2 linked regions of the Homo sapiens genome follow. Each later gene encodes a partner of the first gene's protein in a complex. Each region holds a gene or a part of one and is shown on either strand. Other genes may lie near its edges. The genes, in order: ANKS3 and ANKS6. A codon is read from its position in the direction of its gene.

Evidence for each region.
Region 2: the proteins of ANKS3 (region 1) and ANKS6 are in contact, whole or in part, in a crystal structure (PDB 4NL9), measured with the Homo sapiens proteins. Residues at the interface, in NP_597707.1 of Homo sapiens: Lys441 (codon at 6,915), Tyr442 (codon at 6,912), Thr470 (codon at 6,828), Leu471 (codon at 6,715), Phe472 (codon at 6,712), Gly473 (codon at 6,709), Pro474 (codon at 6,706), Arg476 (codon at 6,700), Lys477 (codon at 6,697), Arg484 (codon at 6,676); in NP_775822.3 of Homo sapiens: Glu796, Gln797, Glu798, Val799, Asp800, Glu802, Ala803, Thr806, Leu807, Asp811, Glu814, Leu815.

What each region holds. Positions count from the first base shown.
Region 1 is NC_000016.10:4,692,226-4,706,946, forward strand, and holds the end of ANKS3 (ankyrin repeat and SAM domain-containing protein 3), read right to left. Parts: intron 13,029-14,721; coding exon 12,870-13,028; intron 10,018-12,869; coding exon 9,877-10,017; intron 9,319-9,876; coding exon 9,209-9,318; intron 8,910-9,208; coding exon 8,745-8,909; intron 6,952-8,744; coding exon 6,827-6,951; intron 6,717-6,826; coding exon 6,575-6,716; intron 6,375-6,574; coding exon 6,202-6,374; intron 5,838-6,201; coding exon 5,752-5,837; intron 5,192-5,751; coding exon 5,108-5,191; intron 4,880-5,107; coding exon 4,803-4,879; 3' UTR 4,792-4,802; intron 4,672-4,791; 3' UTR 4,286-4,671; downstream 1-4,285. Other genes in the region: NUDT16L1 (tudor-interacting repair regulator protein), read left to right, coding at 1,460-1,654, 1,753-2,343. UniProt on the Homo sapiens protein: May be involved in vasopressin signaling in the kidney.
Region 2 is NC_000009.12:98,788,995-98,804,316, reverse strand, and holds the start of ANKS6 (ankyrin repeat and SAM domain-containing protein 6), read left to right. Parts: upstream 1-7,761; 5' UTR 7,762-7,825; coding exon 7,826-8,184; intron 8,185-13,710; coding exon 13,711-14,213; intron 14,214-15,322.

The sequences.
Region 1 (14,721 bases):
CGTCCCACGGGCCCTGGGCGCTGGCTGGGCTTGGCTGCCTAGGGGTGGGGCCCTCTTTGGGTGAGAGGACCCTTCCCCTCGCTGCCCTCTCGCCTTCTCACATGGTCGCTCACTCTGGAATCTGGACTTCCCCTGCTGCTTGCAGCTGTCCCATGTGACCCCTGACCCACTGGTGGCCACAGGAGGAGAGAGAGGTGCCCTCTCTGGGTCCTTATTCTCCACATCTGAGGCCACCACGGACCTAACAGGTGAGTTTCCAATGCCCACCCTCTCCCTCTCTCTTCTCCTGCCTGCCTCCACTGAAGGCAGCCTTCTCTGTGCCAGCGAGCTCGGCCTCACTGCACGGCTCTCCCGAGGCTGTGCCCCAGCCCTGGGCACCCATGCTGTGAGTGCAGGCAGGGGGGTTCATGTGCTCAGCAAATCCATTCCCCTGGTGGGGAGGAAAGTGGCCCTGGGCCCTGCTGCTGGTGAGGTGAGCCTTGCCATCATGGAGTTCAGGGCACCTCGCTCTGCCTTGGGCTGTTTCGGATGCTTCTGAGCCCCAGAGACATCTCCAGTACAAACACAAGGTAAGTGGTAAGTACCTCAGGCCCTTGTGGAATCGGGATTCTGCCTCTGTCATCAACTGCCAGTTGTACTTAGGCAAGTTATGTCCCTCTCTGAGCTCCAAGTTCCTCATCGTAAATTGGGGAAACCCCTCTTCCCCCCACAGTACCTGGCACAGGGTGCCCGGCTTGGAGGATGCTGGAAAGGTCCAGCCCCGGAATTTAAGTCACTTTCTGCCCAGCAAGCTGGGTCCACAGAGCCCCAGAGCTCCCGGTCGTCCGCCCTGACCCAGCGTGGACTCGGGGACTGGGGCACTCAAGCCCTGCCAAGCCCTGCTCCCCGTGCTGTCCTGGATCGAGCCTGCCAGCAGGGTGGCTAGGTCGGGACAGCTGTCGTGCATGGCAGGCGAAGGCCATCTCCCTCCGGGCTTGGGTCCGGTGGCGCTGGCGGAGCAAGGCTCCGGGGCATCTCTGGCTCGTGTGGTCGTGCCAAGGGTGCCATTGCGGATGGACGGGGCCATGCGGGCCGGGTCGGCCTCCTGGGGAGAAACGGGTGGGCGCAAGGGGATCGGCGCCATCGAGGGTGGAGAAACCGCAGGGAATTTCGGCTGTCCGCTTTGGGGCGCCAAGGAAGATGTTCGTCGCCCACAATGTCAACCTTGAGCCACCACGGCACCGACCAGTCGTCTAGGCTCTCCCGTCGGAGGCGGGGCCGCCGCCCAGGGTGTGCGACTATTGGGTGACGGCTGACGCGCACCGCCCTCCTTTGCACACCGCCCGCAGCACCTCTCGACGACGCACCGCGGCGCTGCGAGGGGCTCGGTCCCGGGGCGCGCCGGCGATTGGCGGGGGAACCGGACCCGGGGGCGCGGCCGCCCGCGGATTGGCGAGGCACGGCGGGGGCGGGCTCGCGCATGCTCTTAAGTGGCAGCGGCGGGGACGGGGTCAGTGCCAAGATGTCGACGGCGGCGGTTCCGGAGCTGAAGCAGATCAGCCGGGTGGAGGCGATGCGCCTAGGGCCGGGCTGGAGCCACTCGTGCCACGCCATGCTGTACGCCGCCAACCCTGGGCAGCTCTTCGGCCGCATCCCCATGCGCTTCTCGGTGCTGGTGAGGACGGGCGAGGGCGCGGGCGAGGGTGCCGGCGCGGGCGGGCCCGGGCGGGGGCGTCCGTCGACCCCGCGGCTGTGACCCGCGCTCCCTTGCAGATGCAGATGCGTTTCGACGGGCTGCTGGGCTTCCCCGGGGGCTTCGTGGACCGGCGCTTCTGGTCGCTGGAGGACGGCCTGAACCGGGTGCTGGGCCTGGGCCTGGGCTGCCTGCGCCTCACCGAGGCCGACTACCTGAGCTCGCACCTGACCGAGGGCCCACACCGCGTCGTGGCGCACCTGTACGCGCGGCAGCTGACGCTGGAGCAGCTGCACGCCGTGGAGATCAGCGCGGTGCACTCGCGCGACCACGGCCTGGAGGTGGGGCCGCCGCCCGGGCCCCGCCCCCCGCCCCGGGGTTTGGCTCTGGCCCCGTGGAAGGCACCGATGGGTAACACGTCTCCTGAGGGTCCCCTGGCCGGGCTGGGTCGGGTGTCGCTGTCTCCAGCAATGGGGTGGGGAGAGGGGTCTGGGGCTGGGAGGCCGGGAAAGGAGGGGCGGGGGTGGGGGCCGGCGCTGGGGCTCCCTCAGGGCTGTGTTACATCCGCCTTGCTGCCTGCCATTGCCAATCCTGGGAGTGGGGGAGTGGGATCGGTGGGGAGGAAGGGATGGGGGAGGAGCGGGGATTGCTTGGGGAGTTGGGAAACTTGAGCACAGCGGGGGTTGTAAAACTTGGGAACCTCATGTTGGGCGTGAAGGCTCTTGGGATTTGTACTTTGTGGTCTGGAAGGGCTGGACTGCGGGTGTTCAGGCTTCGTTGGGTGGACGGGGGGAGCATGGGGTGCGGACCCCGGGGTGGGGTGGCCTGGGTACGAGGGGGGGGAGTGCATGGGGTCAGCCTCCACACTTGCTTGGGGAGGAGGGGGCTGCACTGCTCCGAGGGAGCTGGCTGGCTTCTGCCAGGCCCTGCGTGGGTCTCCCATTAAGTCCTTGGCAAAGCTGGCTGCTCATACCCTGGCCTCATAGCTTCCAGGCCCCTCCTGCTGGAGGTGCCATTGTGTGGCAGGCCTGGCCCCAACCCCTACCTCCTGTCTGCGCAGGTGCTGGGCCTCGTGCGGGTCCCGCTGTACACCCAGAAGGACCGAGTCGGAGGCTTCCCCAACTTCCTGAGCAACGCCTTCGTGAGCACGGCTAAGTGCCAGCTCCTCTTTGCCCTCAAGGTGCTCAACATGATGCCCGAGGAGAAGCTGGTTGAGGCCCTGGCTGCAGCCACCGAGAAGCAGAAGAAGGCCCTGGAGAAGTTGCTCCCGGCCTCCTCTTGAGGGCTGCCTGAGCTGGTGGCACCCTCCCCTGGGCCGGAAGACTGGGAATTCCTGCTAAGTGTGGCTTCTAGAGTGTTTGTGTGTACCCCGCTTCTGACTGCCTAGGGCGAGTGGGCATCCTGTCATCATCTCCACTGTCCCAAGCAGTCACTAGGTGGCGGCCGGGCCAGCTGGAACCCAGCCCATCCTCTCAGGCAGAGCAGGGTGGTCCGGGCACACTGGGCCTGCCTCTCCAGCCTCAGGATGCTCTTGTTTATTCTGGGCTCAGACCCTCCTCTTGTACGTCTCATCACAGCTGGTAGAGACCCAGGAGTGCCTGATTGTCCCACAGGGGTGGCGCACAGCTCTGGGACCACTCAGAAGATGGGATGTGTGGGTGGAGGATGCCTTGTCTCGGTCAGCTCATTCCTGCCTCCTTCCTGAGCCAGTTCAGGGCCTGGGGGAGAGCCAGCTTGGGGTAGGAAGTTAATAATACTGTTAATTTGGGTTGTTGTTGGATTTACTTTGCTAGATTTTCTCTTTCACCACGTGTGAACTGTGGGTGAGGTTTCAAAGTAGCTTCACCCCACGTGGCTTGGTTCCCAGGGACAGTCAGGGCCTCGGGGGCCCAGCTATGTACAACGAAGCTGTCGAAGGAGAAGACAATAAAGTCGCTCCGCAGCTGCTCTGTGTGTTTCTCAGCTGCCCTGTGTGTTTGTTTTGGTTCTGGATGGAACCAGCTCAGGCCCCCTGCCCTAGGTGGGGGAGGGAGGAGCTGCCCCAGCCAGGGGCACGTTTGTTCCCCAGTGTTTACTGGGGGCACTCCCAGCATGAATGCTGTGCCCATCAGCCAGGTTGGGGCGTCTGGGCCGAGACCTTCAGGGCAGGCTCCCCTTCCTGATCCTGGTGGCCCTGGCTGCACCTGGGCTGACCTGCTTTGCTTTGCAAACCCACCATTCCCCACTGTCTGCAAGCAGCTCCAGGGGATGGTGTAGAAGTGCAGGCTTACTGTGCAGAAGGACAGCAGCAGAGCCATCCCTCGTGGTCTCCTACAGCCCCACATCTGGAAAGACTCCAGCGGCATCGTCAGAAAATTTGCACAGCCCATGCCTGGCCCGGTGAGGGAGGCAGTGTGCCCAGCTCCATCTCAGAGCTCGGTGTGAGAGCAGCATGTCCCGGGGGAGGCCCTGTGCTACGGCGGGCTGGGGATGTTCTTGGCTCTCAAAGCCTTATCTTGAGTTGTCTGGGCTCCAGGAGCAAAAGACACACCCCTGAACAGCAGAGGACAGGGCAGTCAGGGTTGCTGCATTGGCCAGTGCCTCATGTCATGTGACCAGAACTGAGCCCTTCACTAGCTGTTCTTAAATTTTATTTTCCAAAAAATGGCATTTTCCAGGTGCCCCAGTCCTCATTCCTAAGGTCCCACCTCAGTTGGCACCTGTGCGTGTATATGGATACACTTTCCCCCCAGGGCCCTGCCTGGTATGGGCCAGGGCAGCCCATGAACTCTGGGCCTCACCACGAGGTTCTGGGTGAGGCCCTCGTCCCGCCTCAGTGCTGGCCCGAGCTGCCGAGCCAGGGCCGCAGCCCCCGTCTTGCCTCTGTCTGCCGGCTGCTCCCGGGGCCTGATCCTCTGGCCCCCACTGGGCCTGGGCTGCACATGGCAGCTACCTGCTCACTGTCCTCCTCACTCCCTGGCACACAGCTTCAGGGTGGACCAATCACCCAACGTCAGATTCTGAAAGAAAAAGCCCCGGTGAGAAGGGAGGGGGACAGGTGGGTGCATACCCACACCTGCAGCCGCCCAGACAGGCCCTGCTGCTCCCACCACGCGGGATCCAGGCTGGCAGACACTCACCGGCCCGCAGGCTAGGTCTCCCGCCACTTCTTCCCGTTCAGCACCTGCAGCTTCTCCAGGCTCTGGGTCACTAAGCACAGTGCTTGCCCTGAGGAATGATGACCTTGAGCCTCTCCCGGCCAGGCTCAGGAGGGCTGGGTGGTGCTGCCCCGGGGTCTCAGCTGCAGGATGTGACCTGCCCCTCACCCGTTATGGCCCCAGCCCCGAGGTCAGCCTTGGGGTAGAGAGACACAAACCCGCTTTCCCTGGAAAGGGGTCCCTTTGCCTCCCTCGGAAACAAAAGGAGCGCTCAGTCGTCTGGTCCCCGGAGACTCACCCATCTCACGGACACGGTCCTCCAGGGCTCCCGAGAGCTCGGGGAGGCTCATGGCCTGCAGGGACGCTTGCCAGCCCTTGGAGTCTGTGGTGCAGGTGCAGGGACCGAGTTAGCTGGGGGTCTGCGTCCCCACAGGCCCTGCTTTATTCTGAGCCCATGCAACCAGGAGAACCTGCTTGGATCAGAACCTCCCTACCCGCCTGACAGTGTCTAAGCAACCTCCCAAGGCCGAGGCAGGGAAGCCCTGTTGTGCCCTTCCTCCCACAGGCTGAGCAAACACTACGAGGCCCGGGTCAGCCCGAGAGAAGGCAAAGCTCTGCCGGTGGGGACCCGGGTCTGGGCCCTGGCTGGAGGCTACAGAAGTCACTGGCGGTCTCAGCACAGCACAGCCAGCCAAGGCACAGGGCCTTTCTCGAGTACCTCCTACCCCTGGGGGATAGGCAGTTTTCCTGTCACAGGTGAGGAAGTGGGCTTGGGTCCCCAGGGCCCCCTCTTTTCCTTGGACTCTGGGATCATGTGCACACAGGGACCTGGGAGAGTGGCTGCCGGCCGGAGAACCAGGCCAAGCCCACTGGGTCAAACCTGGCTTCAGGGCTCCCCCACCTTCCCCTCTGCCCAGTGCGGAGTCAGGCCACTGCTCTTACCAGCTGGGGGGACGGCTAGGCCCAGAGTGGCTGCACCAGGGGGCTGGTCCTGCCTCACTCGAGATGACAGCTCAGCTTGACAGGCTCTGCCAGACACAGAAACAAATATTGGTGAGAGCAGAGGCCTGGCCGCTGCAGAGCCCCCACCTCAGACCTTCTAGGGGAGGGAGGGGCTCAGCCCTGTCCTTGCAGCTGGCCCTCATGGGCTGGGCCAGTGCCCCATGAGGCTGCACTAAAGAGCAGGAGGGCGACCGGTGCAGATTCCCGGACCCAACTCCTGCCTGGGTCTGCCTGCAGGAAGGAAGGGCCTGATGAAATGGGGGTGGGGTGGCTCCAGACCCTGAAATCCACCCCTCAGTTACAAAATCAGGAGGAAAGGATGTGTGGGGGCCCAGGGGCCAGGTGGCTGACCACTGGAGACCCAGCCCAGGGCAGCTCAGAGCCACTCACCGCAGCTGGTCCAGGACGAGGGCAGCATCCCGGGCCAGGGCCCACGTCTCCCGCAGCCGGGCCTGGAGGTCCTCGCGGGCGCGGTCCTGCTCCAGCAGGCAGCTCTCCACCACGGCGCGCAGCTCCTGCTCCTGACACACCTGGCCCCGCGTGGCCTCTACCTCCTCGCAGCGCTGCAGGGGGGTGGGGGGCGCGGGGAGGCTGGGAGGTGGCCGGTCAAGCCAGACCCTTGGCCACGGCCCTGTCCTGTGTGTGGGGCCCTCTCCCCACTGCATCCACCTGACCCCTCCACACAGCACCCACCTTTTCTGTCAGAGATGGAGCCAACTCACGGGTGTCACCCTGCCCCCCCATCCCCCACCCAGCCACTCACCTTGTGCAGCTGGATGGCGAGCTCCTGCATCTCAGCCTCCAGCCGGTCGGCGTAGGCCAGCTCCAGGGCATCCCCGGGTGGGCGGGCACTGCTGTGCCAGCGGGCAATGGCGGACGTCATCTTCCTCTTGGGCCCAAACAGCCTGCGGGGGGAATGTGACCAGGATATGCCTCAGCGTCCCAAGAGCGCTTACATGAGTGGGAGTTTGCCCCAACCCCGGGCTGAGGGCCAGAGCGGCCCTTCTGGACGCACGTGATGCCAATTTCCTTCAGGTCGCTCTCAGTGAGGGTCAGAAAGATGCGGAGGTCCACGTCCTGCTCCTCAAACACCTGCAGGTACTTCAGACACCCGATCTGCTCCAGCAGTGCGGCAAGGTCCTGGCAGGCACAGGGGACAGGTTGGGGGAGGTAGTGGCTGACGACGAAGCAGAGACGTTTTCCTCCACTCGGAGCCCCACCACTTCCCCAGGCTCAGAACCAAGACAGTGCCTTGTGTGTGGCGCCCAGGCTGTCCCCTCCTACTCTGGTGGCTCAGGCAGGGCAGGATGTTGCAGGCAGGTGAGTCCTCACACTATGGTCGGCCACGTGGGGACAATGTATGTTCATCACCAGAAACTGGCCTCCTCCTCCCACACATGCTCAGTTCTGTGAAGGGACCATGGAGCTGCTGATCTCGACAATGCTTTGTAGGCGGAGAGCGCTGCCCTCTAATTCTAGAGTCTCAGTGTCGGATGTTCTGATTTCCACTTGTCTAAGCGCAGCTCTTCTCCGAGTTCACCTGTCTGGAGTTCACCGAGCTCCCTGGATGTAAGATCCGTGTTTCTGATCCACTGAGATGGTCAGGCTGTTTCTCACCCATCGTTTCTGCTCTCCTTCTGGAATGCCACTGTATGGGGTGGTGTCGGTGTGCTTGAGGGGATCACAGATTTCTGTTAATTTTTTTTACTCATTCTTTCTGTTCCTCAAGCGAGATGATCTCAGGTGACCTGTGTTCACAAGTTGTCTGACTCTTCTGCCTGCTCAATTCTGCTGTGAGCTCGTCTAGTGATATTTTCATTTCATTTACTTTTCAACTCCAGAAATCCTACTTTTGAGAGTTTATTGCTTTTAATGGACAAACAAATGTTACTCTGACATTTTCTTCAAGCTATTTTCTGAAAGAAACATACTTAGGACACTACCCTGACCAGACTCCACTCAACGTATGTTGAAGGGACCGAGACGTGTGCCTGCTCACTGAGCCAGGGGCTGCAGGGAGAAGCCGGCAAATCCAAGGCTCTACTGAACAGCAAAGCCAGTGCTTTAACAAATAACCAGCCAGGCCGGGCATGGCACCAGGCCAGGTGTGGTGGCTCACGCCTGTAATCCCAGCACTTTGGGAGGTCGAGGCGGGCGGATCACGATGTCAGGAATTTGAGACCAGCCTGGCCAACATAGTGAAATCCCGTCTCTACTAAAAATACAAAAAATTAGATGGGCATGGTGGCGGGTGCCTGTAATCCCAGCTACTTGGGAGGCTGAGGCAGGAGAATCGCTTGAACCCAGGAGGAGGAGGTTGCAGTGAGCCGAGATCGCGCCACTGCACTCCAGCCCAGATGACAGTGCGAGACTCCGTCTCGAACAAACAAACCAAATAACCAACCAGAGCTTCCCTCTGCCTCTCCTCTCCGTGCCTCTTCTGCCCACACAGGGTAGGAGAACTCAGCAGACACAGGTGAGACAGCTGAGCTGTGAGTCACACCTCTGATCCCTAAGGTAATGTGTGGTCAGAGGGACCACAGAAAGGAGGAGGATGGTGGCAGCTGTAACCATCACCAAGCACACACTGTGTGTAGTTCCTGTCTCTGCTTCAACCACATCTTGTCAGACTCCTGCAGGCAGCTCTGAGGTCAAGTGTGCTTTTCTTCTCCCCAGGCTCAGGGAGGCCAACTCCAGTATGGAAAGCAGGGAGACAGGTCCTTTCCGTGGAGAGGAACAGAGTAGAAGCGCTGCAGCGGGGCTGCCAGCCATGGAGCCGGCTGTGAGCCTGTGGAGCCTAACAGGCCATGGGGATGCCACCGCCATTCTGTTCTCCTAGCAGCGCCTGGCACGTCATATACACAACACATGCCTCCTAAGTCACAAAAAGTGCCGTCTCTGAGTGTAACCTCCAGTTTCACAAGCGGTCTTACCTGGGGTCCTGAGTAGGGGGCCCTCTGAGTCTGGGGGCTGGACTCAGCGAGAAAGCCTTCCCTGTCAGTTGCAGCGCGGGGAGGCCACTGGCTGTCAGGATTCTTGGTCTTCATGTAACTTTTAGCTTGTTTGCGAGCTGAGCTTTTACAGGCATGATCCGAGTCCTGCAGTGAGAGGCGTGCATCTGAAAGAGTGCGCGGGCTAACTTGAGAGCCTTGGTGAAACCCCCACCCGCCACACAGGGGCTTGAGAGGCTTCGTGAAACCCCCCACCCGCCACACAGGGGCTTCCGGTGCGTTCGCTGTCGTCTGAGAAGCCAGACCCTGGACACAGCACGTCCCAGTGCAGCACACACGTGCAGCAGCTGCTTCTTACATACATGCTCATCTTAAAGTAACTGGGGGATGTCAGGCATCCCAGCCAGGGACCGGCTATGGGAGACCAAGAAAGAAAGAATCCGTACCTCGTTGCTCTCCACAGAAGCTTCGCTGCTGAGCCCCTGGGCTCTGGCCAGGCCCTCGCTGCTGCTGCTGCTCTGGACGGGCCCCAGGTTGGCACAGAAAGCATGTTCCTCTGAGGGCGGGAAGACAGGGCGTCCGCCTGCAGCCCTCACCGAGGTGCTGCGCATGGGCGTGCCCCGGGCTGAGCCGCCTCCACCAGGGCACTCCTTGGGGCCTGCAGCGGTTGCTTCCTTATATTTCAAACTTCCTGCCTGTCCTAAACCCTCCCCTCTATACAGACGGGCAGGGCTTCTGTCTTTTTTGTTCACTGATAAATCCCAAGCACCCGGAGCAGTGCTTGGCACACGGTGGGCACTATGGAAACAGCTGCTGCACGGAGGTGCAGTTATAACAGACATTCCTACTGGGGCCTGCCCTGAAAGCCTCAGGGGCTCCCAAGCAAGGAGCTAAACCTGTTGCTGTGGAACGGCTCCCTTAAGCCGCACGGGGATGCTGGACCAGAAGCTTCTCCCATTCCTCACAAGAACCAGGGCCGTCCACACCTACCCCTTTCCTGTCCTCTGCTGGATGGCTGTGTCCAGCGCCAGGCCCAGGGGATAAGTGGGGATGGGCACACAGGAGCTCCAGGACCTGCCTGAGCCACGGGCCGGATGGGTGGGGGTGCACGTACCCCGACTGCTGCTGCTGCTGCTGCTCTCCACATCCCGCTCATTGATGGGGGAGGTGACATCCCGGCAGCAGAGGCCCTCTTCTTCCAGGGGGTTCTCGCCACTGCTGTTGAAGGTGACATAGCCACGGGGAGGAGCCTGCTCTGTGTACAGAATGGGGCCCATAAGCCCAGGGAACTCCAAAGTGAAACCTCCTCAGAGGCCGAGGCCCAGGATGGAGGCAGGTGACTTCCCAGTCATGACCTCACCTACTTGCCCCTGCGACCTGGCATGGCTCTATCTGTGGTGTGTGGGTGGAAAAGATGCTCTGAGGGTCAGTCAGTGGCCCAAGCAAGTGCCTGGTGGGGCGAGGGCTGGCAGCCAGGTCAAGCCTGGGCCCTCTCCATTTCTTTTCCAAGGGGAAAACGTAGCAAATGGTCAGCTGTATTTACAGATGCCTGACCAGAGAAAACTATACCATGAGTGTTCCTTTTAGCAGGAGGTAGCTAATGACCTCACACAGACACCCATCGACCACGTGTCTTTATGTCCCTGTGACCTTTAACCACAGGCGCTTAGCGGGCCTCCTCTGGTCAGTCAACCCCGGCGAAAAAGAGACCTGGCTGAGCAGGAAGGAAAAAGGCCTTGAGGTAAAAATTAACAACAATAATATGAAATTACCTAACTCTACCTGCCTCTAAAACCAAGCAGAAAAAGGGGCATGTATACCAGGCAATTTCACTCCAGTTTTGCCCCTTTACATAAAAAGACTGACTTGACCAGTCACGGTGGCACATGTCTGTAATCTCAGCTACTTGGGAGGCTGAGACAGGAGGATCGCTTGAGCTCAGGAACTGGAGCCTTCAGTGAGCTATGATCGTGCCACTGCACTCCAGCCTGGGCTACAGTGAAACCCTGTCTCAAAAAAGAACCCAAAGGACTGGTTGATGGGACCATGGGGAACTTACTTTCCTCTTTACGTATTTTCCTAGTTATGGAGAAGTTTTTCTAATCAGCACATGCTATTTATCATTGCCCCCTAAACTGTTTTTGAGACAGGGTCTTGCTGTGTTATCCAGACTGGAATGCAATGGCACCATCATGGGTCACTACAGCCTTGACCTCCTGGGCTCAAGCAATCCTTCCACCTCAGCCTCTCATGTAACTGGGGCTACAGGCATGGGCCACCATATCTGGCTAATTTTCAAAATTTTTTGTAGAGATAGGGTCTTGCTACATTGCCCAGGCTGGTCTCACAACTCCTGAGCCCAAGCAATCTTCCTACCTCAGCCTTCCAAAGTGCTGGGATTACAGGTATAAGCCACTGCACCTGGCCCCCCCAATTTTTTTTTTTTTTTTTTGAGACGGAGTCTTGCTCTGTCACCAGACTGGAGTGCAGTGGCACAATCTCGGCTCACTGCAACCTCCGCCTCCCGGGTTCAACCGATTCTCCTGCCTCAGCCTCCCGAGTAGCTGGGATTATAGGCACGTACTACCATGCCCAGCTAATTTTTGCATTTTTAGTAAAGATGGGATTTCACCATGTTGGCCAGGATGGTCTGGATCTCTTGATCCACCTGCCTCGGCCTCCCAAAGTGCTGGGATTACAGGCGTGAGCCACTGCGCCCGGCCCCAAATTTCTTAATTACTGGCAAATAAAATATATGCACTTATAGAAAATTTAAATTTCACAAGGTATGAGAAAACAAAAATCCCCTGAAATACCACACCTGAGACCACCACCATGATTACTTCTCTGTGGATACATACAAAGAACCGCACACAAGCGGCTTCAGACATGTATGATTTTGTTAAAGCATTTGTTGTACAGCTATATAGATTAATTACCAACTCAGCCCCAGGATGACAGCTTCCTTCCTGTCCCCACCACACCTCAGGCTGTAGCAGGTGGCAGGGACCTTTTGGAAGGAAGAGACTCTGCCACTCAGAACGACCAGCCCGGTGTCCCAGAGCCAGTGCTCACAGCTCAGCGGACGGGACACGGGCGGGCCCTCATGCTGTGGTGGGGCTGGCCAGCAGCTCGAGAGAGGCCTTCCCAGTGGCCCAGTCAGCTCACCCTTCCCAGGATGATGGGAGAAGGTGGGTCTCCAGTTCCCAACCCAGCACCCAGGCTTGGGAAGACAGAAGTCTGCACATCTGCTTGTTCCTGGGGTCTAGAAGGGAATTCAATTACTGGTGGACCCCTGGCTGAAACACTGTCTACTCTCACTCTTCCAAGTCCTGGCCTCAAAGAGGCCTTGCTCCCGAGAAGGACCAGCCACCAGGCCTGTGAGACCAGCAGCCTTGGCCTGGCTATGAGTGGGTGACAGCCATCAAAGGAAGACATAACTCACACCTCCAGCTGAGCTCTGGGACAGACCACAGCAATAGAGAGTAGGCACCAAACCCAACTCCCCTAAAAAGAAACCCCAGCACTCCCCAAGAGCAAAACGCTCAACACCCTGGGGCTGGGAATCTGAGAATGAACGAGACTGGAAAACCCAAAGGCTAGGATTCTTCACCAGCAAGTCAACAAGCGGGCCCTCTCTCAGGAGGGTCTGAGTACAACTTCATCGCCCTGAGAAAACAGCAGGGCCTGTTTTCTTGGCCTCCTGCCCCCAGCAGCGCACCCGACCCAGCTGGTATGGGCAGGGCAGGGAAGTGAACTTCACGCTTTGCCTCCTCCCTGTATGAGCCAACCCACCTATGTGATGAATGAAATCTGACCTTAGCTACATTTCTGCTGCAGGAGAGAAAGTTCTATTCCTAAATTTAACCAACGAAAAGGAAACTCCAGGAGATAAAGCAAAAAACAAGAGCTAGTCCGTGACCAATGCATTTCCATCACAGGACTCAATCCTGAGTCTCCCTGAGCATGAAAGCTGGGCCACCTGTCCCGCTGCCACCTGAGGTCCAGCGACCCACATTTCAGGAGCCTAAGAGCTATTCCATTCTTGCCAACACAAAATCCTGGTATGCAATGAGAAAGAGCCCTCGGGAAACGCGGGCCACTCACCATAGCGAGGCCGTGGGGCTCTGCCGCCCAGGCCAATGCCTGTGATCCTGGCCAGGGCTCGCGGTCCCTCGTGGATGCTGACACCCTTCTTCCGGCAAGGCCTCTGTCTCTGAGGAGCAGGGCAGGACTCGTCAGAAGAGCTCAGATCTTCGTACTTTTCTGTGATCAAACACCAAGATTAAGATAGTGTGTTCAGTAATGGACTCATTTACTAATCCTTACGGCAAACTGAAAGAAAGTGACTGTCGCCGGTTTTGTTAAATTAAGGAGAAGGGTATCTGCCAGGGCATCACTTCTGAGAAATGCCCTAACAGGCCGGGGCGCTGCTCCAATGGGCCACAGGGAGCTGCAAAGTTAGTGAGGATGGGAAGTTTCATTTTTCTTGAGACAGAGTCTCACTCTGTCCCCCGAGCTGAAGTGTAATGGCATGATCTTGGCTCACTCACTGCAACCTCCGCCTCCTGGGTTCTAGCGATTCTCACGCCTCACCCTTCCAAGTAGCTGCGGTTACAGATGCGTGCCACCATGCCCAGTGTTTTTTTTCTTTTCTTTTTCAGTAGACACAGGCTTTTGCCATGTTGGCCAGGCTGGTCTCAAACTCCTGATCTGCCTGCCTTGGCCTCCCAAAGTGCTGGGATTACAGGCATGAGCCACCATGCCCAGCCAGGAGTTTATTATCTCTGTTGGGGTTTGCCAAATTGTTCATAAGTCTGTATTGTTCATAATCAGAAATTCTGTTCTAATTTGAATAAGTAAAACCCATCTCTTCATTAAAATATATGGTAATATAAGTCACAACTACTTTTTCCTAATCCCTTCCTTTGGAAACAACTTTTTTTTTTTTCTTTTGAGAAGGAGTTTTGCTCTTGCTGCCCAGGCTGGAACTTCCGCCTCCTGGGTTCAAGCAATTCTCCTATCTCAGCCTCCCGAGTAGTTGGGAATTATAGGCAGATGCCACCATACCCAGCTAATTTTTATATTTTAGTAGAGATGGGGTTTCATCATATTAGGCTGGTCTTGAACTCCTGACCTCAGGTGATCCACCCACCTCAGCCTCGCAAAGTGCTGGGATTATAGGCACGTTACCACTGTGCCCGGCTGGAAACAACTTATTAAGCAATTCTGTATTTTCTTTTTTTTTTCTTTATTTTTTTGAGACGGAGTCTTGCTCTGTCACCCAGGCAGGAGTGCAATGGTGCGATCACGGCTCACTGCAAGCTCCACCTCCTGGGTTCACGCCACTCTCCTGCCTCAGGCTCCCAAGTAGCTGGGACTACAGGCACCCGGCCACCATGCCCAGCTAATCTTGTTTTTGTATTTTTAGTAGAGACGGGGTTTCACCATGTTGGCCAGGCTGGTCTCGATCTCCTGACCTTGTGATCCGCCCACCTTGGCCTCCCACAAAGTGCTGGCATCACAGGAGTGAGCCACAGCGCCCAGCCACAATTTTGTATTTTCTAAAGCATGGCATGTGTTTGCTATGATTATAAACTGTTTCAAATCACTTCCCAGTCTGAGCTTTCAGAGCTCAAACCAGAGCTTTTATTATTTTGTAGCTTTTCAGTTTTTCATATTTGATTTGTATAAGGCTCTGATCTGATTCTACTTTTAAGAGATACGTGAGTTGTATACAGGAGGAAATGATGAGATCTCCTTGTGGAGTGGGTAAGCTGGGGCAGAAATGAAGGGAAAGGTCCTTTGCATTACCACCTGAGCTGTGTTTATTATGAAACAATCCCAATGCCAGGGAAGAGGCTGGGCTGAGCCTGACACTGAGAAAGGAGCTGCTCGCTCAGGTGCAAACTGACAGGACAACTCAGGGCAGGCCAGCAAAGAGGGAGAGCTCAGGCCC
Region 2 (15,322 bases), on another chromosome or scaffold:
ACATAGACTCGTAAGTGCTCAAAAGATATGCATACAAGGAAGCTTATGGCAGTATTGTATATAAAAGCAAAAAGTTGGAAACAATCCAAATTTCCATCAAGAGATTATAAAATAAAATATTGCACATCCGTACAATACCATAATATACCACAGTGCTATTTGCAAGCATGAGTTAGTTGTAGGCATTTAACATACACATGTGTTCAAGATGCATTGTAAAGAAAAGAGAAGCAAGTCGTGGAGCTATATGAATAGTATGATCCTATTTTTGTAAAATAATATATATTAACATATGAAAGGGGAAAAAATCTAAAGGAATATTTACCAAACCATTAACTATATTATATTTACTTCTGATGGGTGAGATTCTGTGGTCCTTTCACTTTTGTTCCATTTATTTGTTTTTTTTTCAACAAATATTTATTGATCACCTACCATCTGGGAGTCAGTGTGCTAGATTCTGGGGATTTGAGGTAAACAATATCCAAAGCCATTGATCTCAAGGAGTTTACATTCTATATTTCTACAACATCAGAATTCTTTAAAACAATCGTTACCTTATTAGGAAAAAAAAGACATTTAAAGTAAATATTGTACTCTTTCGAGATTATTTTACTTCTAAGCCTTCCTTATCTCCTGCCTAATCCACTCTGTCAGTCTGTGGTCCTCCTGTCCCCCTGCTCTCTCCTTCCAATATGTTTCCTCCTTTTTCCTACAACGACCTAGACCCCACCCATCATTTCTGCCCAACTTGTAGCCAAGCTCTGCCATGAAGCTGTCAGTGGCATCCTCCAAACTGTGACATCTTCCTTTGAATTGACGATGAAAACTCATAGACCCCACTGTTCTGCAGTCATGTGGGATTTCCTGGGAGCCATGAGGCCATGTTTCTATCATTCAACACACATAATGCCTAGCACACAGAAGGTATTTAGTAAATGCTGGCTGAGCCTGGTACCGTGGCACACACCTATAGTCCCAGCTACTCAGGAGGCTGAGGCAGAAAGATCACTGGAGCCCAGGAATTTGAAGCTGCAGTGCACCACGATGGTGTCTGTGAATAGCCTCTACACTCCAGCCTGGGCAATAAAGCAAGATACCATGCCTAAAAAATTCAAAATTAAGAAAAAATTTTAATTTAAAAAAGTTGGTTGAAAGGAATTGTGTTGGAAATGAGGTGCATTGCTCAGATTACCCTTTGGGAGAAACTTTTAGGGGAAACACGGTTGACTGCCAGCTCCCAGTGGCTATGCCTTTGGATCCTTTGTGGTATCCTCTGGCTACTCCCAGTCAGTGACCGAGCATGGTGTGGTACCAGAACCTGGCCACATCTGCATGATATAGGACACAACCCGTGCTTGGGAATCCCCCATCTGCCTGGCTGAGACTTTCCCTCGTCACTTCCCATTCTCCTTTCTCAAGTATCAGACCTGCATCATGGTCTGAGGGCTCCCCATCCCTTTTCCCCGACTTTCCCCTTTCCCTCTTTTTTTTTTTTTTTTTTTTGAGACGGAGTCTCACTCTGTCGCCCAGGCTGGAGTGCAGAGGTGTGATCTCTGCTCACTGCAACCTCCGCCTCCCAGGTTCCAGCGATTCTCATGCCTCAGCCTACCAAGTAGCTGGGATTAAAGGCACGCACCACCACACCTGGCTAATTTTTTTGGTATTGTAGTATAGATGGGGTTTCACCATGTTGGCCAGGCTGGTCTCAAACTCCTGACCTCAAGTGGTCCACCCATCTCGGCCTCCCAAAATGCTGGGATTACACACTTTCCCTCTTTGTCCTTTGTAGGTATTTTTCCCAGAAAACAAACAAACAAACAAACATCTAGGCATCTGATTCTTAGAGGATCCAAACCAACACAGGGACCAATGGAAAAAAAAAAAGGCTGGAAGAGAATTCATAAACAATAAGGCTATAGCTATACTTGCATAGAAAGATGTGCTGGATCTGTGCTTCACAAACTTTAATGTATGGTATGGTGAGTCACCTGGGGATCCTGTTGAAATGCTAGATCTGGTTAAGCAGGTCTGGTGTGGGCCCAAGATGCCACATTTCTAACAAGCTCCCTGGTGATACCAGTGCTGCTGGTCCAAGAACCCCAGATTGAGCAGCAAGGTGCTAGACATCGTCCATTTGTCCCTGCTGTTTCTCTTCACCCTGTTCTGTGCCCTGGAAGGCTGACTGCATGAACTATATCAGCAGGCTCCAAGACTCTAGCTTCCAGTAGGGTTTACTAATGAGGAGCACTGGCAGGAGATCAGAGGGCAGGAGGAGAGTGAGGTCAGAGGTTTTTATTCCTCTGAGGATAGCTCCCTACTGAGTTGCTGTGGGTTGGCTCTGTCCCTCTACCAAAGGCTGTAGCTCCTATCAGGTAGGTCTCTGCAATTTTTCTCTCTTGCAGAATTCCAGTACCTGCTCTCCCCTTTTCCCCTTCAGGCCTGGGATGGTAACAGCTCTGTACTATTACCAGCCCTGGAGTACTGCACCATCCCTTGTGGCTCTTAGTAAATCCTGCCTATACTTCTGTAAATGGTCCTTTAGTAAGCATTCCCCAGCTCCTCAGCCAAGTGTGCCATCTGTTTCCTGGTGGGACCCTGGCTGCTACAAGCGCTGTCCAATGCAGTATTTTTTATAAGAGCAGAAAACTGGAAACAAGCTAACTGTGCTTGTTTCTGTTTGTTTGTTTGTTTGTTTGTTTGAGAGTCTTGCTCTGTCACCCAGGCTGGAGTACAGTGGTGCAGTCTCAGCTCACTGTAACCTCTGCCTCTCAGGTTCAAGCGATTCTCGTGCCTCGGCCACCTAGGTAGCTGGGATTACAGGCATGTGCCACCACACCTGGCTATTTTTTTTTGTATTAGAGATGGGATTTCACCATGTTGGCCAGGCTGGTCTTGAACTCCTGGTCTCAAGCAATCCACCCCCCTTAACCTCCCAAAGTGCTGGGATTACAGGCATGAACCGCCATACTCGGCCTCAACTGTGCCTTATTCTAAAATGATTAAATGGGCTGGGAACAGTGGTTCATGCCTGTAATCCCAGCACTTTGGGAGGCCGAGGCGGGTGGATCACTTGAGGTCAGGAGTTCAAGACCAGCCTGGCCAACATGGCAAAACCCCGTCTCTACTAAAAATACAAAAATTAGCTTGGTGTGGTGGCGGGCATCTGTGATCCCAGCTACTCCATAGACTAAGGCAGGAGAATCGCTTGAACTCAGGAGGCAGAGGTTTCAGTGAGCCAAGATTGCACCACTGCACTCTAGCCTGGATGACAGAGTGAGACTCCATTTCAAAAAATATAAAATAGAAATAAAAATTAAATGATTAAATAAATTATGGTACGTCTGCTGAATGGTGTTTCATGCTATCATTTATTTATTTATTAAAATTTTTTTGGAGATGGAGTCTCGCTCTGTCGCTCAGGCTGGAGTGCAGTGGTGTGATCTCGGCTCACTGCAACCTCCACCTCCCAGGTTCAAGCAATTCTTCTGCCTCAGCCTCCCAAGTAGCTGGGACTACAGGCACATGCCACCATGCCTGGCTAATTTTTTTGTATTTTTAGTAGAGACAGGGTTTCACCGTGTTGCCCAGGCTGGTTTCAAACTCCTGAGCTCAGGCAATCCGACTGCCTCAGCCTCCCAAAGTGCTAGGATTGATTACAGGTATGAGCCACATCGCCGGGCCGCAATCATTTTTTTAAAATGCAGCAGTCTGTATTTACCTACATGGAAAGGTGCCCAAGACATTTGTTAATGGAAAAAGAAAAAAAAAAGCAAGATTCAAGAATAGCATGCGTAGTATGAACCCATTCATTTACAAAAAAAGTAAATTATCCATTTGTTAAGGCTTGGAATGCAAGTGACAACAATGCTGCTCAAAATAAACCTCACCAAAAAGAATGTGGGGAGGGATTTTCTAACTTAGTCTCTTTCTATCACTTGGTTTTGCTTTCTTTTGTGGTGACTTCACTCTTAGGCAGGCTGTCTTCAAGTGGTGGCAAAGTGAGCACCAGTTTGGCTGACATCCTGATAGCTGGCAACCTCAGCAGAGAGGGCCTCATTCTCAATTGCTTTAGCAAAAATCCTGGGCTGGGCTGGGCACAGTGGCTCATGCCTGTAATCCCAGCACTTTGGGAGGCTGAGGGAGGAAGATCACTTGAGGTCAGGAGTTTGAGGCCAGCCTGGACAACGTGGTGAAACCCCGTACCTACTAAAAATACAAAAATTAGCCGGGCATGGTGGTGGGTGCCTGTAATCCCAGCTACTCGGGAGGCTAACGCAGAGAATCACTTGAACCCAGGAGACAGAGGTTGCAGTTTGTGGGGTGCAATTGTGCCGCTGAACCTCAGCCTGGGAGAGAGAGTGGGACTCCGTCTCAAAAAAAAAAAAGTCCTGGGCTGAAGCCAATCAGGATATGTGCTAACCACTGAAGCACACAGACTGTGAGTAGGGAAGAAAGGCTTCCCAAAAGAAAAAGGGTGTCCAGAGGGAATATTTCATAGCAAACACTTGTTATCGTTTTTGACTGCCCAGCATCTGAACCCCCTTCCTACATTTGGGAGTGCCCTACCTTCTGAAGCAGAAACTACCTCCCGCTATTATATGAGCACATGACCCAAGTTGGGCCAGTCAGGCACTGTCACCTCAGCCTCTGAATCTGAAGCCAGGAACACCAAAAAGGGCCTGAACCAACCCCATCTTCCTACAGGGTGCAGCTGCGGCATGAGATTTGGGTCATTGTTCCTGGCTTTGGGGCCTCCAGAACTGGTTCTCAGGCTCTCATGGATCTGTGAGCTACAGAAGAACCTTGTACTAAATCCTGCAGCTTTTCCAGCACCTAAAACAGTGTCTGGAAATGGCAGGCACTCAATACATATTTGTTGAAAATGGAAAGAGAGTTGGACTCGATGTCAGAAGACCTGAGTCCTACTCACAGCTCTCCTGCAGAATAGTTGTGGAGTCTTTGGCAAGACACAACCTCTTTGTGCCTCGGTTGCCTCCTCTGCAACCTAGGGATGATCATCTGGGCCCTCCCCGGTGGATGGCAGGCGTGCAATGAAGATCAAACGTGGGTCTCCAACTTTAGCATGCATCAGAATCACCCAGAGGGCTTGTTAAAATATAGGTTGCTGAACCCACACCCAGAATTTCTGATTCAGTAGATCTTGGGTAGGGCCAGAAAAATCTGCGTTTGTAACAGTGTTGCAGCTGGTGATGGTGCTACTGCTGTGTGGGACACACTTCAAGGACCGCTGATAAAGAGAGAGAAGGTATTTCATTTTCTTTGTGACCATTGTAAATGAGGTTGTGTTCTTAATTTTGTTCTCAGCTAGAATGTTATTGGCATATCAAACTGCTATTGCTTTTTATACATTGATTTTCTGTCCTGAAACTTTACTGAATTTGTTTATCATTTCCAGGAGCCTTTTGGCAAACTCTGTAGGGTTTTCTATGTATAGATTCATACTCTCCGCAAAGACAGAGTGTTCGACTTTTTCTTTTCCTATTTGAATGCCTTTTATTTCTTTCTCTTACCTGGTTGTCTGGCTAGGACTTCCAGTACTATGTTGAATAGGAGTGGTGAGAGTCTTCTTCCAGCTTTTGCCTGTTTAATATGATGTTGGCTATGGGTTTGTCATAGATGGCTGTTATTATTTTGAGGTATGTTCCTTCAATGCCTAATCTGTTTTGAAGATTTTTATTATAAAGGGATGTTGGATTTTATTGAAGGCCTTTTCTGCATCTATTGAGATGATTATATGGTTTTTGTTTTTGATTCTGTTTATATGGTGAATCACATGTATTGATTTGCGCATGTTGAGCCAACCTTGCATTCCAGAAATAAAGCCTACTTGATCATGGTGAATTGACTTTTTGATGTGCTGCTGGATTCTGTTTGTAGTATGTCATTGAGGATTTTTGCAGCTATGTTTTTCAGGAATATTGGCCTGAAGTTTTCTTTTTTTCGTTGTGTCTCTGCAAAGGGCATGAACAGACACTTCTCAAAAGAAGACATACAGGCAGCCAACAAACATATGAAACAAATGCGCAACATCATTAATCATCAGAGAAATGCAAATCAAAACCACAATGAGATATCATCTACACCAGTCAGAATGTCAATTATTAAAAAGTCAAAAAACAATAGGTGCTGCTAAGGCTGTGGAGAAAATACACTGTTGGTGGGAATGCAAACTAGTTCAGCCACCGTGGAAAGCAGTTTGGAGATTTCTCAAAGAACTTAAAATAGAACTATTTGACCCAGCAAACCTACTACCAGGTATATACCCAAAGGAAAATAATTCATTCTATCAAAAAGACACCTGTATATTCATTGCAGTGCCATTTACAATAGCAAGGGTATGGAATCAACCTAAGTGCCCATCAACAGTAGATTGGATAAAGAACATGTGGTACAGAGCCAGATGTGATGGCTCACACCTGTAATCCTGGCACTTTGGGAGGCCACAGCAGGTGAATCACTTGAGCTCAGGACTTTGAGACCAGCCGGACAACATGGTAAAACCCTTTCTCAACCAAAAATACAAAAAATTAGCCGGGTGTGGTGGCACTTGCCTGCAGTCCTAGCTACTCGGTAGGCTGAGGTGGGAGGATTGCTTGAGCCTGGGAGGCAGAGGTTGTGGTGAGTAGAGATTGCACCATTGCACTCCAGCCTGGATGACAGAGCAAGACCCTGTCAAAAGAGAGAGAGAGAGAGAGAGAGAGAGGGAGAAAGGGAGGGAGGGAGGGAGGAAGGAAGGGGGATAGGGAGGGAGGGAGGGAAGAGAGGGAAGGAATGAAAGAAATGTGGTGCATATACACGATAGAATATGATGGAATACTACGGAATACTATGCAGCCATAAGAATGAACGAAATCATGCCCTTTGCAGCAACATGGATAAAGCTGGAGGCCATTATCCTAAGCGACCTAAAAAGAACAGAAAACCAAATACTGCATGTTCTCACTTATAAGTGGGAGCTAAACATTGAGTACACATGGACACAAAGATGGGAACAACAAACGCTGGGGATCGCTAGGCCAGGGAGGGATGGAGGGGACTCTGGGCTGAAGAACCTCTTGGTGGGTATTATGCTTACTGCCTGGGTGACGGGATCGTTGGGACCACAAGCTTCAGCGTCGCGCAATTTACCCATGTAACAATTTACCCATGTAACAAACCTGTACCCTTTAATCTATAATAATAGTTGAAATAAAAGGTGGGGGAGAGAGAGAGAACAGGAGGCGCTTTTAGCCCCAGCAGCCTGGCCCAGATGAAGGAGCGACATTAAGGGCACCGCAGGACACTGTGAGGAAACAATCCGTTCGTTCCTTAATTCAGCCGCTTCCTTATTCTAGAAGGGCAGGTTCAGTGCCAGGGGCTGCGGTGGGGTCAGCGGAGCCCGCTAGTAAAGTCAAGGCCCACGCAGCTGCGGACTCAGACCCGGGCCCAGGGCCCTGACCACAGCGTGAAGAGGGGATGGCGTGGCCGCTCCCACCTCTGCCCTGACAGGAAGTTTCTGGAGCCCCGGGACAGGGCGGCGAGAGGGCGCCGAAGAGGCAAAAGGGAACACGCGGGTCTGCGGCGGGCGCTCCTCTGAGCGTCCCTGGACTCCCGAATACGGGCACTGGAGGTGCGCAGCCCCGGCCCTAGCGCGCTCCCGGCACACAGCAGGCGCGCGGCCCTAGCCCCGGCGCGCTCCCGGCACACAGTAGGCGCGCGGCGCGGGCGGGTGGCCGGAAGGGGGCGCCTGCGGGCGGTATCCGGGGGCGGAGCCGACGCGGCCGGCGGGGCGGACGGGAGCGGGCCGCGCGTGGCGGCGGCGATGGGCGAGGGCGGGCTGCCCCCGGCCTTCCAGCTGCTGCTGCGCGCGTGTGACCAGGGCGACACGGAGACGGCGCGGCGGCTGCTGGAGCCGGGGGCGGCGGAGCCAGCCGAGCGCGGCGCGGAGCCGGAGGCGGGCGCGGAGCCGGCGGGGGCCGAGGTGGCCGGGCCCGGGGCCGCAGCGGCGGGGGCAGTCGGGGCTCCGGTGCCCGTGGATTGCTCGGACGAGGCGGGCAACACCGCACTGCAGTTCGCCGCGGCCGGGGGCCACGAACCGCTGGTGCGCTTCCTGCTGCGCCGCGGTGCCTCGGTCAACAGCCGCAACCACTACGGCTGGAGCGCGCTCATGCAGGCGGCCAGGTGAGGCGGCGGGGCCCGGGGGCCCGGGACCAGAGTGGTGCCCGGCGCTGGCCCGAGACGCGGTCCCCGGCGGCCGGATGCCCCGGGAGGTGAAGAGTTAAGGACTCCTTAGAGTTGGAATGGTAAACTTTGAGTAGTCTTTTGTAAACTTTGAGCATAGACGTGGAAACACTTTTGAATTAACATAAAATCAGATTCTTAGAAATTTTGGCCTTTCAGAATAGAATCTGGAGACAGCGAATAGAATTGTAGAGACTTAGAACCTTAGAGATTTAATTCATTTCTTATTGCAGTAAGAGTTTCCTCAGAACCTGCCTTCCCTTCCTGGCTTGGCGTTGAGGGTGCTGCGAGACCCAGGCAGAGTCCCCACCCAGGGCATTGGTGGGCAGGCCAGGCAAAGGAACGAGCTTGACCGGAAAGGTTTGAGTAGCTGTGGGGCAGGTGACCCATTTTGGAGACGTGGGGGAAGGTTTCTGGTAGAAAAGATGTTTATATCCACGTGGAGACCTGCGGATACCTGAGAATTAGCCAGGACATTACAAGTGGGCTGTGGGAAGGCATGATGGGAGGCCCATGCAAAGGCTTGGGTGCACGAGCTGGTAGGACTGGTAGAATGAGGTATGCGTAGAATGTATGAGTAGAATGATGTACTAGTCCTCCCTGGAGAGAAGGCAGATGCCAGGGAGTTGGGGGAGTGTGGGAGCTGAGAAACGCTAGCTATCCTAGGGTGCTAGGGAGTCATGGAAGGTGCTAGGGAGTCATGGAAGGTTCTAGGCAGAATGAGTGACAGGATGAGAGTTACGTTTTGGAAAAATTACTTTCCTTGAAGTGTGAGAATAGATTAGATACTCTAGGGTAAGCTAGAGTCAAAAAGGCTGGTTAGGTAGAGTTTGCTGCAGTCTGAGTGAGAGGTGATGGTGGCCTAGACCAGAATGGAGACAGCGGAGGGAGGGCACCCAGATGAATTTGTGATATATTCAGGGAGTAGATCAGCAGGAGTTGACGACTGGCCCTTGGGGAGGGGTTAAGAGAGACAGCAAGGATGGCATCTAGAGATCTGGCTTCTGTGAAGCCTGCCATGATATCTCCCTGTTCTCTGGTCCCTCCGCAGCAGAAAGGCCTCTGTGGTAGCATCCATCACACCATGTTAATGCTGACTGGCTTCCTCAGTACCCAAACCTGGCCACACATCAGAATCACCAGGATGCTTGTCTAAGTGCAGATTCCTGAGTTCCTTTTCTGGAGATTGTGATTTAGAAGGCCCAGGGCAGTGAGGGGAGTAAGAGACAGGGACTCTGTGTGAGAAGAGGCTCCCCAGTGATTCTCTTGTATGGTAGGTTTGGGAGCCACTGATGTGTTATGTGTGTCTCATCTCTGCAATCCACCAAGTGCGTGCACAGGGGCCCTGGTGAGCCCCCTGAGGAATTTACTGAGTGAGGTTTGTGACTACAGCACTGACATGCCTCAGAGTGTCTCAGAGACCCCAGATCATCAGTTTTAACCAAGTTCTGCAGGATAGTCTTGAGCCTGGGTATTTTAAAATGTGCTGTTCCTCAGTTGGTGTGACACCGACTCTATATTCAGGTAGCATCTCTGCCTGTGTTGAGTTGTGCTCCAGCTTTCTGCTGCGTAATTCATAAGAAAAGGTCAAGTTGAGGAGTAGTATATATGGAAGACTTCCAGAAGGATGTACAGTGTGTCTGTCCCTCACATCGGGGTAGGCAAATGAATGGCCTGTGTGCTGACACCTTCCAGCCTTGTGCTCTTCTTCCTTGGATCTGGATACGCCCCCAGAATCCTGCTCAAAACCACACCCCTGGCAGCCACCACGCTGGGTCTGAGCAAGCATCTATTTATCGTCCCAGCTCTCTGTGTGGATCAGGCCAGACTATTAGACACCCTGTGCCTTTGGTCTTTTGTGGGTGTTTTAGTATTAGAAATGGTGACCTTAGTGTTTTTTCCTGTTCTTTTTTTTTTTTTTTTTGAGACGGAGTCTCGCTCTGTCACCAGGCTGGAGTGCAGTGGCGTGATCTCGACTCACTGCAACCTCCGCCTCCTGGGTTCAAGCGATTCTCCTGTCTCAGCCTCCGGAGTAGCTGGGATTACAGTCACGTGCCACCACGCCCAGCTACTTTTTGTATTTTTAGTAGAGACCGGGTTTCACTGTGTTGGCCAGGCTGGTCTCAATCTCCTGATTTCGTGAAACGCCCACCTCGGCCTCCCAAAGTGCTGCGATTACAGGCGTGAGCCACCGCGCTGGGGCATGTTTTTTCATGTTCTTAAAATAATAGGTAACCTTTGGCCAGGTGCGGTGGCTCACGCCTGTAATCCCAGCACTTTGGGAGGCCGAGGCGGGCAGATCAGGAGGTCAGGAGATCGAGACCAGCCTGGCCAACATAGTGAAACCCTGTCTCTACTAAAAATACAAAAATTAGCTGGGCGTGGTGGCACGGGCATGGTGGCACGCACCTGTAGTCCCAGCTACTCGGGAGGCTGAGGCAGGAGAATCGCTTGAACCTGGGAGGCGGAGGTTGCAGTAAGCTGAGATCGCGCCACTGCACTCCAGCCTGGCGACAGAGCGAGACTCCATCTCAAAAAACCAGAACAAAACAAAACAAAAAACAACCTTTATTGAGCACTGACTTTCTGTCAAGCACTGTGCTAAGTGCTTTAAATGAATTAAGTCATTCAATCCATACAAAACCTTAGGAAGGAGGTACTATTGTCATCCTCATTTCATAAATGAGGAATTGAGGAACAGAGAAGTTAAATAACTTGCTCAAGTAACATAGCTACCAAGTGGCGAGTCAGATTCACACCTAGGGAGGTGGCTCCAGAGCCTGTGCTCCCAGCCATGAATCCTGTAACTGATAGTTTCCCTCTTGGTGTTGGTGCCTGGAAGCGGCTTGCCAAATTTGCCAGAGACTTCTCTCCAAGGGACAGGGTTGCATAGTGTTTACCTTCCTTCCCTACCCTTCATTTCCTGCCTGCCAGTGGGGCAGAGCTGGACTCTCAGCCCAGTGCTTTGAGAGGGGAAAATGTGTGCCAGCTCTTTAAACACAGGTGTTAATTGCTGAAATTCATCAGTAATCACAGCACCTGTTCAGAAAGCCCCTAGCATGCCCATCTCCGGCAGTTACCTATTAGAAACTTAGCATCCACAACATTATCTCAGCCTTGCTTGGATCCTTTTATATTTTCAGCATAGTTGAGTGCTCTCTTGGGCTACTCACTAATTCAGAAAACATTCCAAATTTCACTATTTCTGCTCTAATTCACCCCTTTTCTTCCTCCTTAAAAATTGGTTATACTGGAGCTTCGATTTTGAGTCCAGGTGCAACTTTTGACTCTATCACGTTCAAATTGAGAGGCTTTAGATTAATTGCTTTCCACTGTAATCTTCAGTTTCCTAATCTGTGAGTTTATCTCGGGGTTTATTAAGATCAAATGAGATAAAAATGTGACGCACCTTGTAATCTGCTGTTAGGGATTATGCTAGATTTTATCTCATGCTTGATAACTAAATAGTGTAATCTTTTAGAAATGTACTACAGTGGAGGATACACCAGTTCTTCAGGGATTTCCACTGCTCACCTCTGGACCTTCCCCTATGTGGTTATGCCATTTATGCATTCATTTACTTGGCTTGTTTGACCAAATTTACTGAGCTCCGATGTGGATCAGCCACTATGGTAGGGGCTGGGGAAACAATATGCGTGGAACCCTGTCCTGTCCTTGGAGAGCCTGCCACTGAATAGGAGAGACAATTAGGGAAAGAGGGCTCACGTGCAGCCAGAGGCGAGCCCGTGGAATTAGGTGCTCAGAAGAGGGGCACTGACCTAGCCTGGTTGAGGGGTGGTCTGGAAGCTGCTCAGAGTGGGTGAGATATGACTCCTGAAGCAGGACACGGTGGGGGTGTGCTGAGTAGATGAGGACAGGAGAGTCCTCTGGTGGGGTCAGGATGGTGAAGGTGTGGGGAAGGCGGGAAGGTGTGGTTTGGGAGCAGGAGGAAGTGAGGTTGGCAAAGCAGTCAGGTCTTCGGCAATCAGAAGCTGGGGAGTGACAGATTTGGGTTTGGAGAATATCATTTGGGAGTCGCATGGAGGATGGGCAGGAGGGAACGAGACTGGAGGCGGGGAGACATTGGGGTGCAGCTTTCTGCATTGAGTTGGTTTCAATTTGCCTTGTCCTTTTCCACTCTGGGAGTGGAGGTCAAGAGGCCCAGCCCCCTGCAGCTGATGGAGCTGTGTCACCAGGCTCTTGCTTCGTGGCTGAGTAGCCCCATGCTGTTCAGGTTCACATCCCAGAAGGTATTCAGCCGGAGCCTCAGACAGAGTTCAGCCCTGGCCTGGCCGCCAGCCGCCAGGAGGAGGGAGGTCTTGGGTTTAGATGAGGTGCAAAACTGGCTCCCGGGAAGGAGGGCTGAGCATCGAGAAACCCAGAAAGCTGCCTCACAGATGCAGACATGACAGTGGCTTTGTGGTCTCGAAAACCTGGAGTAGACAGCCCCTGTCTTGTCATTGTTTTCTTGTTAGTCCAGGGCCGCTTCCAGCTTGGAGATACACAGCTCCGAGCCCACCAGAGACACCACAAAACAGAACTTTTCTGCCCTCTGGTGTTAAAAGAAGGAAGAGATTTTGCTGGGAAGAGGTACCTGTTTTCCTTCTCCTGGTACTAGGAAGTTGGTGGGTGCAGATCTTTCTCTTCAGGGGCCCAGCAGTGACTTCATTGAGGAAGATCTGGCCTAGGCTGGGTCCTCAGCCGCCTGCAACAAACATTCCTGCCAGCAGGTGGCAGCAGGCCTCCAGGCCGCAATGCCCAGCCTATCTGCTGACCACAACCTTGCCACACCTCTTGGCATGGGGTGTGTGCTTTTGGGGATGGGGAGGGTAGAAATGAATCAGACATGGGCTCTGCCTGTGGGGAAATTAGAGCACAGGCAGAGAGACAGATTCCCAGGCTATAAAGCAGAATAAAATCGACTGTCTGAAATGTAGGAGGCAGCATGGTGTAAGAGAAAAAGCAAGGGCAGCGGCATTCACACAGACCTGTCCTGACCCTGATGCCACCCCTTACCAGCCGGGTAACCCTTGGCACGTTGAATAACGTAACATGAACAATTATAATACCTAACAATCGCTAACATTGATGTGATGTTTCCTGTGGCCAGGCACAGAGCCAGGTGCTTTACATGTAACTCATTTAATCCCCAACAACCCTTGAAGTAGGTACAGTTATATCCCCATTTTGCAGATCAGGAAATGAAGGCACAAAGAAATCAAAGTTCTTCCTAAAGGTCATGCAGCTGGTGGTGGGGAGAGCTGGATTTGAACCCAGGCAGGGCAGCTGCTCACCTTCATGATGATGCATCTGCATCCATGTGGCTGGCACAGTGCCTGGCGCCAGAATAAGACCTCTTATCATGAGCAGCTGTCAGGACTAATAATTCATGCCAATTAAGGATGACATAAGCTGGCCCCCGAGTGCTGTGTGTTCAGTGTCACTAATTCTCCATCTTCCTGGCAGATTTGGGCATGTGAGTGTGGCACACCTCCTGTTGGATCACGGGGCTGATGTCAATGCCCAGAACCGGCTGGGGGCCAGTGTGCTCACTGTGGCTTCTCGGGGCGGCCACCTGGGTGTGGTGAAGCTGCTCCTGGAAGCCGGTGCCTTTGTGGACCATCACCACCCTTCAGGCGAGCAACTGGGGTTGGGCGGCAGCAGGGATGAGCCCTTGGACATCACAGCCCTGATGGCTGCCATCCAGCACGGGCACGAGGCCGTGGTGCGTCTACTGATGGAGTGGGGCGCGGACCCCAACCACGCAGCCCGGACCGTGGGCTGGAGCCCGCTGATGCTGGCCGCACTCACTGGGCGGCTTGGAGTGGCCCAGCAGCTGGTGGAGAAGGGCGCCAACCCTGACCACCTCAGCGTGCTGGAGAAGACCGCCTTCGAGGTTGCACTGGACTGCAAGCACAGGGACCTTGTAGACTACCTGGACCCGCTGACCACCGTCAGGCCCAAAACAGGTCAGGCTGCATGCCCCCCGTGGCTTCACAGAGGACCCCAAATTGTGTTTATGTGGCTTAAGCTGAGGATTGCTCTACTGGAAGGACACGCAGAACTCAGAGTCCAGCCCTGCAGACCACTGAGACTGAGGAAGTGGTGTGCTTAAGTATCGGGGGGATTGCCTGTGACATGCAGGTTCTGGGCCCACTCTCTGCAGAGTGATTTGGTAGCCCTGGGCAAGAGCCTGGAAGCCTCTATAACAAGGCTGCTCTCCCCAAGCACATCATTCTGATGCAGGTGGTTCTGGGGCCCTTCTACAACAAGGTTTGGCAAACTTTTTCTGTAAAAGGCCAAATAGACTGTATGGACCATACAGTCTCTGTTAAAACTACAGTAGTCACTTCTGCTAGAGTGAAAGCAGCCTTACATATGTAATGAGTAAATGAATGGGTGTGGCTATGCATATAATATGTAAATGAGTCAGGTATGGCTAGGTTCCAATAAATTATAACTACAAAAACAAGCAGTGGGATATATTTGAGCCATGGGCTATAGTTTGCCAGCCCTTGTTCTACAATAGTGTGCCTGACCTCCTCTGCCCTGATCATTTCTCAAACACTAGTTCATGTAAAATTGATGAAAATTAGTTTTTTAAAAAACATCTAGCAGTGCATCTTTTTTTTTTTTTTTTTTTTAACTTCTTGCCATCTCTCTGGCATGTAAAGAGTTGTCTAAACAATCCTTAGCAAATCTGCCATAGGACATACCACGTTTCAAAACCTTTAATGCACGGTTTGCAATAAGATCGCAACACACAGCCTTGGTACCCTCTGTCTATGTAAAAGGCCTGACTTCGACGGCAGGACTCACAGCCAGGGAGTAACAGTAGGTGGGCTGCAGTGTATATAAACATCTAGCTCTGAGAGGTCAAGCACTGAAGAAAGTAGCTTCAGGCACATTGGCTAAAAAGACCTGAAAGTGTTAAGTTTGTTACCATTGAAAGAATATAGAATAGCCCCATCAATCAAGAGATGCTGAAAATTTGGTAAATGCTTATTAGAAATACACTCTCCAAAAAAAAAAAAAAAGAAATACACCATCCAATCAGAACAAGTCTGAAATAAACATG